4 separate regions of the Homo sapiens genome follow, and regions 1, 2 and 3 are each reported to be linked to region 4. Evidence: microRNA targets listed by miRTarBase, many of them from high-throughput screens and not tested one by one. Region 4 holds a microRNA gene; each other region holds the end of a gene's coding sequence.
What was found. Region 4 holds the annotated microRNA hsa-miR-770-5p (UCCAGUACCACGUGUCAGGGCCA, at 1,361-1,383, opposite strand). A microRNA usually pairs through its seed, bases 2 to 8, with sites in the 3' UTR of a target mRNA and lowers its output. Matches are read on the target gene's strand: a 7mer-m8 pairs with bases 2 to 8, a 7mer-A1 pairs with bases 2 to 7 and ends in A, and an 8mer does both.

Region 1 (3,000 bases), not on the chromosome of region 4:
CACCCTCAGTGGTTTCCCTTCTGGAGTCTGGGCCTGCTCGGCCAGTGCCCTCATTTTCTGTGGAGCTGTTCCATGTCTGGGCACAGAAGCACCTCTCTGGGAGCAGGTGGGGACGTGAGAGCCCCCTGCTGGAACTGTTCTGTCACAGGCCCCGGGAGGAGCTGGACCTGCTGCCGGAGCCCCTTGGGGCAGCGGGTGAGCCGCGGTGTGAGAGACTCGGGCCTGGAGCACCAAGGGCCCCACAGCAGGAGGGATGGGGGTGCAGCCTCCAGGGCGCTGGGGTCCTCTTGGCTGACCAGGAGCCTTACACAGGGGCTGCCTCATGGGGTTGGCGGGAGCCCCGGTGTGAGGGAGACAGCCACAGAGGCAGCCCCGAAAGCAAAGCGCGGAGCAGATGGCAGAGGATCCCACGTGGCAGAGGAGAGGGCAGCAGAGGATCCCACGTAGCAGAGGAGAGGGCGGCAGAGGGTCCCGTGTGGCAGAGGGCAGCAGAGGGTCCCACGTGGCAGAGAAGAGGGCGGCAGAGGGTCCCGCGTGGCAGAGGATCCCACGTGGCAGAGAAGAGGGCAGCAGAGGATCCCACGTGGCAGAGGAGAGGGCGGCAGAGGGTCCCGTGTGGCAGAGAGGGCGGCAGAGGGCCCTGCGTAGCAGAGGAAAGGGCAGCAGAGGGTCCCACGTGGCAGAGAAGAGGGTGGCAGAGAAGAGGGCAGCAGAGGGTCCTGCGTGGCAGAGAGGGCGGCAGAGGGTCCCGCGTGGCAGAAGAGAGGGCAGCAGAGGGTCCCGCATAGCAGAGGGCGGCAGAGGGTCCCGCGTGGCAGAGGAGAGGGCGGCAGAGGGTCCCGCGTGGCAGAGAGGGCAGCAGAGGGTCCCGCGTGGCAGAGGAGAGGGCAGCAGAGGGTCCCGTGTGGCAGAGAAGAGGGCGGCAGAGGGTCCTGCGTGGCAGAGAGGGTGGCAGAGGGTCCCGCGTGGCAGAGGAGAGGGCGGCAGAGGGTCCCGCGTGGCAGAGGAGAGGGCGGCAGAGGGTCCCGCGCGGCAGAGAAGAGGGCGGCAGAGGAGAGGGCAGCAGAGGGTCCCGCGTGGCAGAGAAGAGGGCGGCAGAGGGTCCTGCGTGGCAGAGAGGGCGGCAGAGGGTCCCGCGTGGCAGAGGAGAGGGCGGCAGAGGGTCCCGCGTGGCAGAGGAGAGGGCGGCAGAGGGTCCCGCGTGGCAGAGGAGAGGGCGGCAGAGGTTCCCGCGTGGCAGAGGAGAGGGCGGCAGAGGGTCCCGCGTGGCAGAGAAGAGGGCGGCAGAGGAGAGGGCGGCAGAGGAGAGGGCGGCAGAGGGTCCCGCATGGCAGAGGATCCCACGTGGCAGAGAAGAGGGCAGCAGAGGATCCCACGTGGCAGAGGAGAGGGCGGCAGAGGGTCCCGTGTGGCAGAGAGGGCGGCAGAGGGTCCCACGTGGCAGAGAAGAGGGCAGCAGAGGGTCCCACGTGGCAGAGAAGAGGGCGGCAGAGGGTCCCGCATAGCAGAGAAGAGGGCAGCAGAGGGTCCCGCGTGGCAGAGGAGGGCAGCAGAGGGTCCCGTGTGGCAGAGAAGAGGGCGGCAGAGGGTCCTGCGTGGCAGAGAGGGTGGCAGAGGGTCCCGCGTGGCAGAGAAGAGGGCAGCAGAGGGTCCTGCGTGGCAGAGAAGAGGGCGGCAGAGGGTCCCGCGTGGCAGAGAAGAGGGCGGCAGAGGGTCCCGCGTGGCAGAGAGGGCGGCAGAGGATCCCGCGTGGCAGAGGGCAGCCGACAGGCAGCTCTGAGAGGATACAGGGTTGGGAAGCTCAGGCAGAAGGCCATCGTAAGAGCTAAGAGCTACGTATGGAGAGTGTGGAGGTGATGAGAACTGAACGGGGGCCGCTGGGCTTAGTGACCAGGCAGCAACTGTGCCCTTGCTGAATTCCAGGCGCTAAAGAACTTGGTGAAGAGTCCGGGCCCCGCTGAGAGGGTGGCGCGTGCGCAAATGTGGAATCCTCACCCAAAGTCCTCAGCCTCAGAGCACACGAAGGTGTTTCTCCTCCCCTGTCGAGCGGGAACCGGGGGTCCAGGCTGGGACGCTGATTGGATGTGACAGCCCAGCAGACTCCATGCTCGGGGTGGAGGCTTCAAAGGACACGGCAGGCGTCAGGGACTTTTCTTTCTCTTTGAGATGGGGTCTTGCTCTGTTGCCCAGGCTGGAGTGCAGGGGCGCAATCACAGCTCATTGCAGCCTCAATGTCTGCTCAAGCAATCCTCCAGCCTCAGGCCTCTAACATGCCAAGATCACAGGTATGAGCCACTGTGCCTGGCCTAGGGACTTTTTCTTTTTCTTTTTTTTTTTTTTTTGAGACAGTCTCACTCTGTCGCCCAGGCTGGAGTGCAGGGGCACGATCTCGGCTCACTGCAAGCTCCGCCTCCCGGGTTCACGCCATTCTCCTGCCTCAGCCTCCCGAGTAGCTGGGACTACAGGCGCCCGCCACCACGCCCGGCTAAGTTTTTTGTATTTTTAGTAGAGATGGGGTTTCACCGTGTTAGCCAGGATGGTCTCGATCTCCTGACCTTGTGATCCGCCCGCCTCAGCCTCCCAAAGTGCTGGGATTACAGGTGTGAGCCACCGTGCCCGGCCGGCCTGGGGACTTTTTCTAGTGATGTACAAGCACTTGCACACATTTTATTGTACAAAATTCCCCAGTACTGCTTTAATAGTGAAAAAAACACACACACATACAAAAGAAGTTTCAACACGGCTCGTCGTTAGAATTCAAAGTCTTCTCCTGCCATGGCGAGAGCCCAGGCGAACCTCTCCCGCTGTGTTTTGCTGTAGATCTTCTCCACTGGCACCCTGAACCGCTTGCACCTGCGGGAGGCAGCATCAGCCCAGGCAAGCAGGCAACTCACCCACCTTGAAGGCCAGGTCAGGGTGCTCGGCAAGGGCGAGCGTCCTCCATGCAGCAGAGACACCAGAGCCGCCTGGTGTAGCTGGGACCTGCTCCTCTAGGCCAAC
Region 2 (3,000 bases), not on the chromosome of region 4:
GTGGGAAATCATTTAGGTACCACTGCAGGCTCATTAGACACCAGAGAGTCCACACGGGAGAAAGGCCTTATGAGTGCAGCGAATGCGGGAAATTCTTTCGTTACAACTCCAACCTCATTAAACATTGGAGAAATCACACTGGAGAAAGGCCTTACGAGTGCAGAGAGTGTGGGAAAGCCTTTAGCCACAAGCATATACTTGTTGAGCACCAGAAAATCCACAGTGGAGAAAGACCTTATGAGTGCAGCGAATGCCAGAAGGCCTTTATTAGAAAGTCTCACCTGGTTCATCACCAGAAAATCCACAGTGAAGAGAGGCTTGTGTGCTCCATGAATGTGGGGAATTCTTTAGCTAAAACTCCAACCTCATTAAACATCAGAGATTTCACAATGGAGAAAGTTTACCATTGACTATTGTAATTGGGTAGTAATGTTATATAAATTCCACATTTTTATGCAACTAATCTCCAGAACATTTTTCCTCTTACCAAGAAGTAAAATGCTGTACCCATTAACAACAACTCATTCCCCTTCCCTACTTCCCCAGAAATGTCTCAACTATATTTCTATACTCTATGGTACTTATATGAGGTACCAATAGATATCTATGAATTTGATATATATTTGTACCTCATATAAGTGGATTCTACAGTATTTATCTTTTGAGACTGGCTTATTTCACTTAGGATAAGGTCTTCACGGTTCACCCATGTTGTATAATGTGTCAGAATATCCTTCCTTTTTAGGTGAAATAATATTCTATGGTATTTATATACCACATTTATTTATCCATTCATCTGTTAGTGGATACTTGGGCTACTTCCACCTTTTGCCTATTGAAATAATGCTGCTATGAAGATGAGTGTACAAGTGTCTATTCAAGATTCTACTTTCAATTCTTATAGGGTATATACTCAGAAATGGTGGTGCTGGATCATATAGGATTTCTATTTTTTTTTTTTGTTTGTTTTTGAGACAGAGTCTTGCTCTGTCACCCAGGCTGGAGTGCAGTGCTGTGATCTTGGCTCACTGCAAGCTCCGCCTCCCAGGTTCATGCCATTCTCCTGCCTCACCCTCCCGAGTAGCTGGGACTACAGGTGCCTGCCACCACGCCTGGCTAATTTTTTTGTATTTTTAGTAGAGACGGGGTTTCACCGTGTTAGCCAGGATGGTCCTGATCTCCTGACCTTGTGATCTGCCTGCCTTGGCCTCTCAAAGTGCTGGGATTACGGGCGTGAGCCACCGCGCCTGGCCAGGATTTCTATTTTTAATATTTTTGGGAAAATTTTTCCATAGTACCTGTGCCATTTTACATTCCCACCAGCAGTGCACAAGGATTGCAATCTATATACATCCTCACCAACATTGTTCATTTTCTATTTCTGTTTTTGGGGTTTTTTGTAGTGCCTTTTGTTTTGGATAGCAGCTATCTTGTTGGATGTGAGGTGGAATCTATAGTGTCTTTCATTTTTATTTTGTGAATGATTGATGATGTTGAGGATCTTTTCATGTGCTTGTTAGGCATTTGTGTATCTGGAAAAATATTCAAGTCTTTTTTTTCCATTTTTAATGGGACTATTTGCTTTTTGTTGTTGAGTTGTAGTTCTTTATACATTCTGGATATTAACTCCTTACCAAATATATGCTTTTTACATATTACCTCCCAGTCCATAGGTTGCTTTTTCGCTCTGTTGATTGTGTCCTTTGATGAAATTTTAAGTTTTGATGTACTGTTGACTCTTTCTGTCTGTGGGTTCTGTATTCATGGATCGAAGCAACCATGGATCAAAAGTATTTGGAGCATCCATGGATTGCAGTGATCATTAATCAAAAATATTTGGAAAACAAAAAGGGTAGTTGCATCTGTACTAAACATGAACAGACATTTTTTCTTGTCATTATTCCCTAAACTATATAGTATAATAAATATTTACATAGCATTTACATTGTATTAGAAGTTATAAATAACCTAATGATAATCTATATAGGAAGATGTGTGTAGGTTATATTCAAACACTATGCCTTTTTATGTGAGGGACCTCTTGAGCATCAGATGATTTTGGTATCCACAAGGGGTCCTGGAATCAGTCCCCCACAGACACCAAGGGATGACTGTAGTGCATTTTATCTATTTTTACTTCTGTTACCTGGGCTTTTGATGTTATATATTAAAAAAAATTAGTATCAAATCCAATGCCAAGCATTTTCCCTATGCTTTATTCTAAGAATTTTATATTTGAAGGTCTTACATTTAGGTCTTTTTTTTTTTTTTCTTTTGGAGGCAGAGTCTTGCTCTGTCACCCAGCCTGGAGTGCAGTAGTGGAATCTCAGCTCACTACAACCTCCGCCTCCTGGGTTCGAGCCATCACCCCACCTCAGCCTCCCAAGTAGCTTGGATTACAAGTGTACACCACCACACCTGGCTAATTTTTGTATTTTTAGTAGAGATGGGGTTTTGCCATGTTGGCCAGGCTGGTCTTAAACTTCTGGCCTTAAGTGATCCCCCTGCCTCGGCCTCCCAAATTGCTGAGATTACAGGCAGGAGTTGTAATGCACTGTGCCTGGCTACATTTAGATCTTTAATCTACTTGGGGTTCATTTTTGCATATGGTTTAAGGCAAAAGTCCACTTTATGTGGCTATCCAGTTTTCCAAGCACCATTTTTTGAAAAGAGCATCTTTCCTCTGTTGAGTAGTCTTGGCACACTTGTCAAAATCATTTGTCCATATATGCCATGGTTTATATGTGGATTCTCTATTTTATTGGTCATATGTCTGTCTTTATGTCAGTACCACACATTTTAGGTGTGTGTGTGTGAGACTCAGTGTTGAGGACAAGGCTAGTGGGCTTTCACACTCCAGACTGCTGTATTCCAGCCCAAATTACTCAAATTAGCCAATCCATGGGGAACATGGAAAACGTAGCTAATGCAATCCGCTTGCCTTACCTAAGTTGTCCCCTGCAGCCTCAGGTTGCTGTTACTGTGTTTCAGATGCAACCC
Region 3 (3,000 bases), not on the chromosome of region 4:
AGTCACGTTCTTGGCTTGCTCTCTACATCTATTCCTAAAAAGAATGTAGGCCTACATTAAGACAAAATTTTATATTATTTCACCTTTATTTTATATTCTATTTTACTCAATTGCAAGCTTATTAAGAACATAAAAAGTTTGATCATAACTTACTCTTACCTCATCCATATTACACTAGAATTAAATCATATAGAAAAACATTGTTTCCATTAGTTTTATAAGATGTATCCACAGTGTGGTTTATTTTTAGTTATGTAATTTTAAAAAACCACTTTGGTGTAGATTTCTCAAAAATGATAACCCTGAAATTAATGAAAATTGTCATTAAAAGATTTCTAGTTTTGCTTTTATAAAAATCATTATTTCGAATTTCACAGTGAAGAGGTACTAAATTCCTCATAGAACATGAAATTATATAAAAATAGAAGACATAGACATCTTTAAATCTTTAATCCTTTGATTAAGCAGCAAGCATATCACTCTTCCAGGCCAAACACTGCTTAAACAAAAAAGAAAAATAATGACGTGCAAAATATTTACAAAATATGCAAAGCACACAATAAAGACATCTCACTATATACATGTGTCATATTACTAATGAAGCTAAAGTTTTTCTACTGTGTGCTCTAATGCATGTAAATCAAATTACAGCACATCCCTCAGATACAGCACCTTGGCCCATGTCTGGGATAGAAGAGATTTTTTAATGAATCACAATATACTGAACAGCTGGACAGATGCTGGTGCTGACCAACTTGACTGACATATCCCACATACTGTGTACTGAAGGTCTACTGACAAGAGACAAGACAATAAACGCTGTAAAGGTATAGTATGCACATACGTAAGACAATCTAAGTGCTTTAAAAAATGTTTTAGATATTTTAAGATATTTAACTGTCCCCTGTGGCTTTTAAGGAAAAAATAAGTATAAATTCTTGAATATTAAGAATTTTAAATCAGCTAAATTCAGGGCCAAGAACTATTTAAGATGATTCAATGAGAAAGAAAAGGACCTAACCTGGAAAAAGAGTTTCAAATATGCCAGTACGTAGGGTATTTATGGAAATACACAGTCTAAAATTAAAAATTAAAACTAATCAATGAATTTAAATCTATAGCACTTTAAGGCTGTGGAGCCAACAATAGGGAATACTTTGGGAACACATGATCTTTCAAAACATAAATTAGGGCCTTAGATGTTGACTATTTTGTGAAGTATTCTACACGTGATAAGAATGTGAATGTGCAAACATGTAGCCTATGTCCACTAGTATAGCAATCTAAGTGATCTGTCTGTCCCTTTGCACAAATAATGATTCCAATATGAAATCACTGTATCAAAAATATTAATTACACATTGTTGAAATACTATCACTTGTAAAATATTCTTTGTTAAGTACTTAATGATTATGGGTTGAATTAAGAAGACTTGATGTCTTTTTGTTTTTCTATAAAAAGGGGTCTCAGCATTTTTAGTTAACAGCACAACTGTGACAATATACTGATACATCTTTAGATAACACAGAACAAATTCTTATTTTATGAAATAATGTTGATGATTTAACCCTACACCAATCCCACGAATACAGGTTGGCTGCAAGGAATACACAAATGTATCCAAATAGTACAATAGATTTATCAATAAAACACCTTTCATATTAAATGCAGACCATATTATTAAGTATGAGGGCAATTTTAAGTTCAGAAACCAAACATGTAAAGGGTACTGTAAAGAAATGCTTCCATAACCACTGTGTCTACTTAACTAACAAAATATAATTCTTCTCTGAAGTCCCCAGATGTAGGCAACTACTAGTTAAAAGCAGATAGCATTTAGAAACAAAAAAAACCAACTCCATTTTCAAGGAACTTAAAGAGATTATATTTCAACAAATTAAGTCCTCATTTGTATGCAAAATTATTCTTCCAATCCTCTCATTACTGACAGATGATGAGTCAATGACCTTTAAACAAGGACTCTGCGCTAGGACCCTAAACTGTATGTTAAAGGGTTAGTAGGTTCAGTACATTCTTTGTGGTTTTATATAATTGCTTTGCAATTGATTAAATTGCTTTCTTTTAAAGGAATATATTAAAATTCCTTTAAAAAAAAAAGCAACATTTTTTGAAAGAAGGGATATGCAGCTATAATTTCTTAAATATGCATAAAATGAACATATGTCAAAATCGGAAATGCTGGCTATTCTTGCACTCCTAACATAGGAAAATGGTTTTTAAAAAATTAAAGAAAAAAGCCAAACATCCTTAACTTAAGAAACTTAAGGAGTTTTCACAATTCCTAAGTCAATATTCCTGTACTAAGAGCCTTGACTATGAAGAGGCAGGAATATAAAGAACCTCAATAAAATAAATACAGTAAAAACAAAACAAAAACTTGGTATATAGAATACTTAAATCTTTTGTTTTTCCTTTTATGAGATCAACATTGCTGAACATATACTCTAGAAAGGAGGCTAACTGGAGGCTTTTTGTTGTAAAACATTTTAGTCTAGTGAACTGAAAAATTTCTTAGACATCCACTTATGCTAGTCCACTGCCACAGAACTAGTTCGCAGCCTCAGTATCTAGAAATGATTATTCTTTCCTCTTTTTCATCAGTCAGATGAGCACTGGTATAATGATGGGGTGAAAAGTTACTGCAGCTGTGTCCAATTTAATTTTTAGTGCAGTGAGGACTGTGAATCTGTCTGAATTCCAATAAGTGATGGTGGCTGTTGACCACCAACCGTGGACAACACCGGTCTTGGGTTTAGACGGGGTGGCATGGAATTAGCAGGGCGAATAAGAGGTGGTGGAGGCTGATTTAAAGTTGGCCGGGGCTGGATGAACCGAGCCTGCTGCTGGAGTGGAGGAGGCTGCCGGTGAAGAGCCGGGGCAGCAGGCAGTGTTGGACGAAGAAGTGGTGGAGGCTGGTTCAGAGTGGCAATAGGGGCTGTTGGTGTTGGAGTGGATGATGGGGCAGGAGGTGATGGACCC
Region 4 (3,149 bases):
AAAAAGGGTGTTTTAAGCAGTTAGTTGTGGCATTATTCATAATATTTTTAAAAGGTGGTTATACATAAGAATAACAGAATGGTTCTGTGAATGATGCCATAGCCACTCAACAAGGCACAACGCAGCAAGTGAGGTTATGAAGATTCATGGAACAAGGGAAAATGTTGATGACAGAAAATTAAATAGAAGAGGCAGGATACAAAAAAAAAAAAGTGTATGTGGTGAATAATGGCAATTAGGTTTTTTTAAAGAAGGGATGCTCATTAAAGAATAGACACTCTTTTTTTAAAAAAAGTATGCCTGTAAGAATGTAAAATGGGTGACATGTCAGAATGTTGAGTGGTGCATGCATTTCCCACTGCTCTAGGTCAAGTGCCATCCACACCATTTATATTAGGAACACAACGGGACACAGCAGGATTCGTGGCCTGTCTATCCCAGAGGTCCTGAGGCCAAGCTTCCCAAGGAGGGAGTTGGGAGTCACAAGAGGAGGCCAAGGAGAGTTGTAGCTCCTGGTGTCACCAGGAAAGGATTTGTGTGTGGGGAGCATGCAAATGACAATGTCAAGAGACAGAATTAATTCTCATTGTTAAAAGTTTAACGAACACATAAAGATAGGCCCTGACCAGACAGGAGCACTAGGATCCCAACTCGGACCTTGTGGGTCTGGTACAGAAAGAACCGGGTAGGGAGCACGTGAAGGATGTTTTATCTCTGGCTTTTGTGCCATTAGGAACCCTATCCCGAATCTCAGCATCCCAGAACTAAAGAACCTTTGAATTACAGATACAAAACTCTTAAGGGTCAAAACCCTAAGAGCCCTGATCCCCCCTCATGGCCTCCACATTTCCAAAAGGACACACAGAATTCATCCAACCCAAACCCACCCAGCCTCCAGGGCACCAGTGGGTCTCCCCAGAGCTGCTCTCATTGGCTCAGTTCGACCCACTGTGACCCGTCAGGACAGCCCCTAGATGTTGGGAGCAGGCTCTCCTAGCAGCCAACGTCGCTTGTTCCTTCCAATTTCCTCTTGGTGCATGCAATGGGCCCTCCCTTCCCCGCCTTCTGCACACTTTAAGTCTTCCTGAGCCTCTGCTGACTTTTTTTAACAGCCGTACATGAGTTCTTTTGAAAGACCCTCCCGGTCTTCTTCTGCCCTGAACCCCTCCCGCCCCATCCTCATCCAACAGTGACACAGCTTGTCAGGGAGAAGCTTCAGCAGGTGTCCCCAGGGATAATAAGTGCACCCCCAGACCTCAGTCCAGCCAAGGCATAGCCTGGAGCCCCAGATTCTGAAAGAGAAGAAGAGCAGACCCCTGAGGCCCCAGCACCACATCAGGCCCACGAGGCCCAGCTCATGTGGCCCTGACACGTGGTACTGGAGGCTCGGAAGGTGGCTCCTGACACATGAATTCCATGTCCTCCGCCTTCCAAATGCTGTTGCCATCCACTCGGCCGGAGCTAGAAGCGTGGGAACCACCCCCTTCTTCTTGCCTCCCTCCCTCCTTCATATCCTGTCTATAACCCCATAGCTTTGATTCCTGAGCACCCCACTTTGCTGCCATCAGCTCAGACCTCAAGCATCACACTAGCTAACAGCCCCATCCATGCCTGCGCCCGCACTCCCCATCCCACCCAGCGTCTACAGAGTCACTCTGAGCATGACGCCTCCCACTCCAGATGGCCTGGCCCCACCCCACTCCCCTGCCTCCCACGTGCTCCCTGCCACAAGTCCTGAGTCCATCCAAGCTGTGCTCCTACTGCTCCGGGCGCTTGTTAAGAATCCAGTGTTTTTATATGTCCCAAATAGGAATTGAGAGGTCAACAAGGGAGACTTTGGTCCTTGCTTTTACAGACAAACACAGGCACACAACACAAAACTACACACATTTCCTCCACTACAGAGAAAGGAGACTCAACAGAACCGGGGAGGCCCTGGGGGAGGACTGTCAGCACGAGCAACTCTCCAGATTTACCCCGGCAGTCCCCCGGAGGGCGAGTCAGAGAAGAGACAACCTCGACACAGCGAAACGCAATCCCGCCAAGTTACAAAACACGTCGTGAAACAGCCGAGAAGACAGAGAGGCCTTGAACCAGGCTCTGGGGATGGCATGTCAAGGAAGCCAGGGTCCCCGGACCACTTCTGCAACCCCAGGGGTGCTGAGGTGCACCTGCTGCCCAGGGAAACCTGAGTTGAGAAGGGTGGGCGCCCTGCCCCATGGAAGACCAGGCCAGAGGGTGGCCTGGGCACACTGCAGAGAGTTGCAAGAACAAGGTTTCTGGTGGCTTGCCCAGGGCTCCTGGGTCCCGGGGCTTCTGGGTCCCCCTTCTCAGGTGCGCCTGGCCACCTTCTGGCCTTTCCCTGCACCAACCCCTGGATGTGAGTAGGTGCCACACCCAGGGTGGCACACAGCAGGCGGGGCCCATGCTCCACCCAGGGCCTATTGCTCCCTGACCCTCTGCTGCCCCCTGGTGGGCAAAACCTCCTGTGCAGGTGACCCATGCCGCGGGAGTGGCCAAGCTACCCAACAGGCTTCACACCACTCGTTCATGCAACCTTCTGCGGGGCTCAGGGTCCAAGCCCTTCCTGCCTATCCAGGCCATAGATGGGGTACCATCAACAGAGACACATAAGATCAACTCTAGTAGGCAGCTGGTGCCACTCCAGGTTTACAGATGGGGAAACTGAGGAAGAGACAGATGCAGTGAAATGGCCCACACAGCCAAGATAGGGCAACAGCACCCCAAGACCAGGGTCTTCCTGAGCCAGCTCCTCCCTGCCAGGGCAAGTGCATGTGACAAGCACATGACATGCCTACAGCCACCCTCCCTGGGGACCACTTCATTCCACTGTCTAGAACACAGGACTGGAAAGAAGGTTCCTTCCTCTCTTCCCTTTTTCCCTCCTTCCTTTCTTCCTACCTTCCTACCACCCTTTCTTCCAGTCATTCGTTCATCCATTTAGATCTGAGTCCTTTGTTTATGGACTTCAGTAACATAGCTTGAAATTAATCATAGCCTTTGGCCTAAAGGCCTCCATTCACAAGTCCTATTTATTGACCGTTACATTATTTTATTCTTTATTCATTTCTTTTTCATTTCTTCCCAAATTGCATCTTTCTTTCTTCCTCTCACTCTTCCTTATGTTT

Region 1: the mRNA of TOP1MT is a reported target of hsa-miR-770-5p. Seed matches in the 3' UTR shown: 7mer-m8 at 2,685-2,691.
Region 2: miRTarBase lists ZNF548 as a target of hsa-miR-770-5p. The part of its 3' UTR that is shown has no 7-base or 8-base seed match.
Region 3: the mRNA of RCOR3 is a reported target of hsa-miR-770-5p. Seed matches in the 3' UTR shown: 7mer-m8 at 1,045-1,051.

The regions. Positions count from the first base shown.
Region 1 is chr8:143,306,691-143,309,690 of GRCh38, forward strand. It overlaps TOP1MT (DNA topoisomerase I mitochondrial), which reads right to left. Exons shown (of 14, transcript NM_052963.3): 14 at 2,634-2,853. The coding sequence ends at 2,751. Among named protein-coding and RNA genes, the nearest start is that of ZNF696, 17 kb to the left of the region's middle. RefSeq lists enhancers at 616-1,116, 1,117-1,617.
Region 2 is chr19:57,399,480-57,402,479 of GRCh38, forward strand. ZNF548 (zinc finger protein 548) reads left to right here. Exons shown (of 4, transcript NM_001172773.2): 4 at 1-3,000. The coding sequence ends at 410. Among named protein-coding and RNA genes, the nearest start is that of ZNF17, 10 kb to the right of the region's middle.
Region 3 is chr1:211,313,453-211,316,452 of GRCh38, reverse strand. RCOR3 (REST corepressor 3) reads right to left here. Exons shown (of 12, transcript NM_001136223.3): 12 at 68-3,000. The coding sequence ends at 2,685. Among named protein-coding and RNA genes, the nearest start is that of TRAF5, 12 kb to the left of the region's middle.
Region 4 is chr14:100,850,643-100,853,791 of GRCh38, reverse strand. It overlaps MIR770 (microRNA 770), which reads right to left and starts at 1,402; the gene lies at 1,305-1,402. The region is part of intron 9 of MEG3 (maternally expressed 3); the gene reads right to left.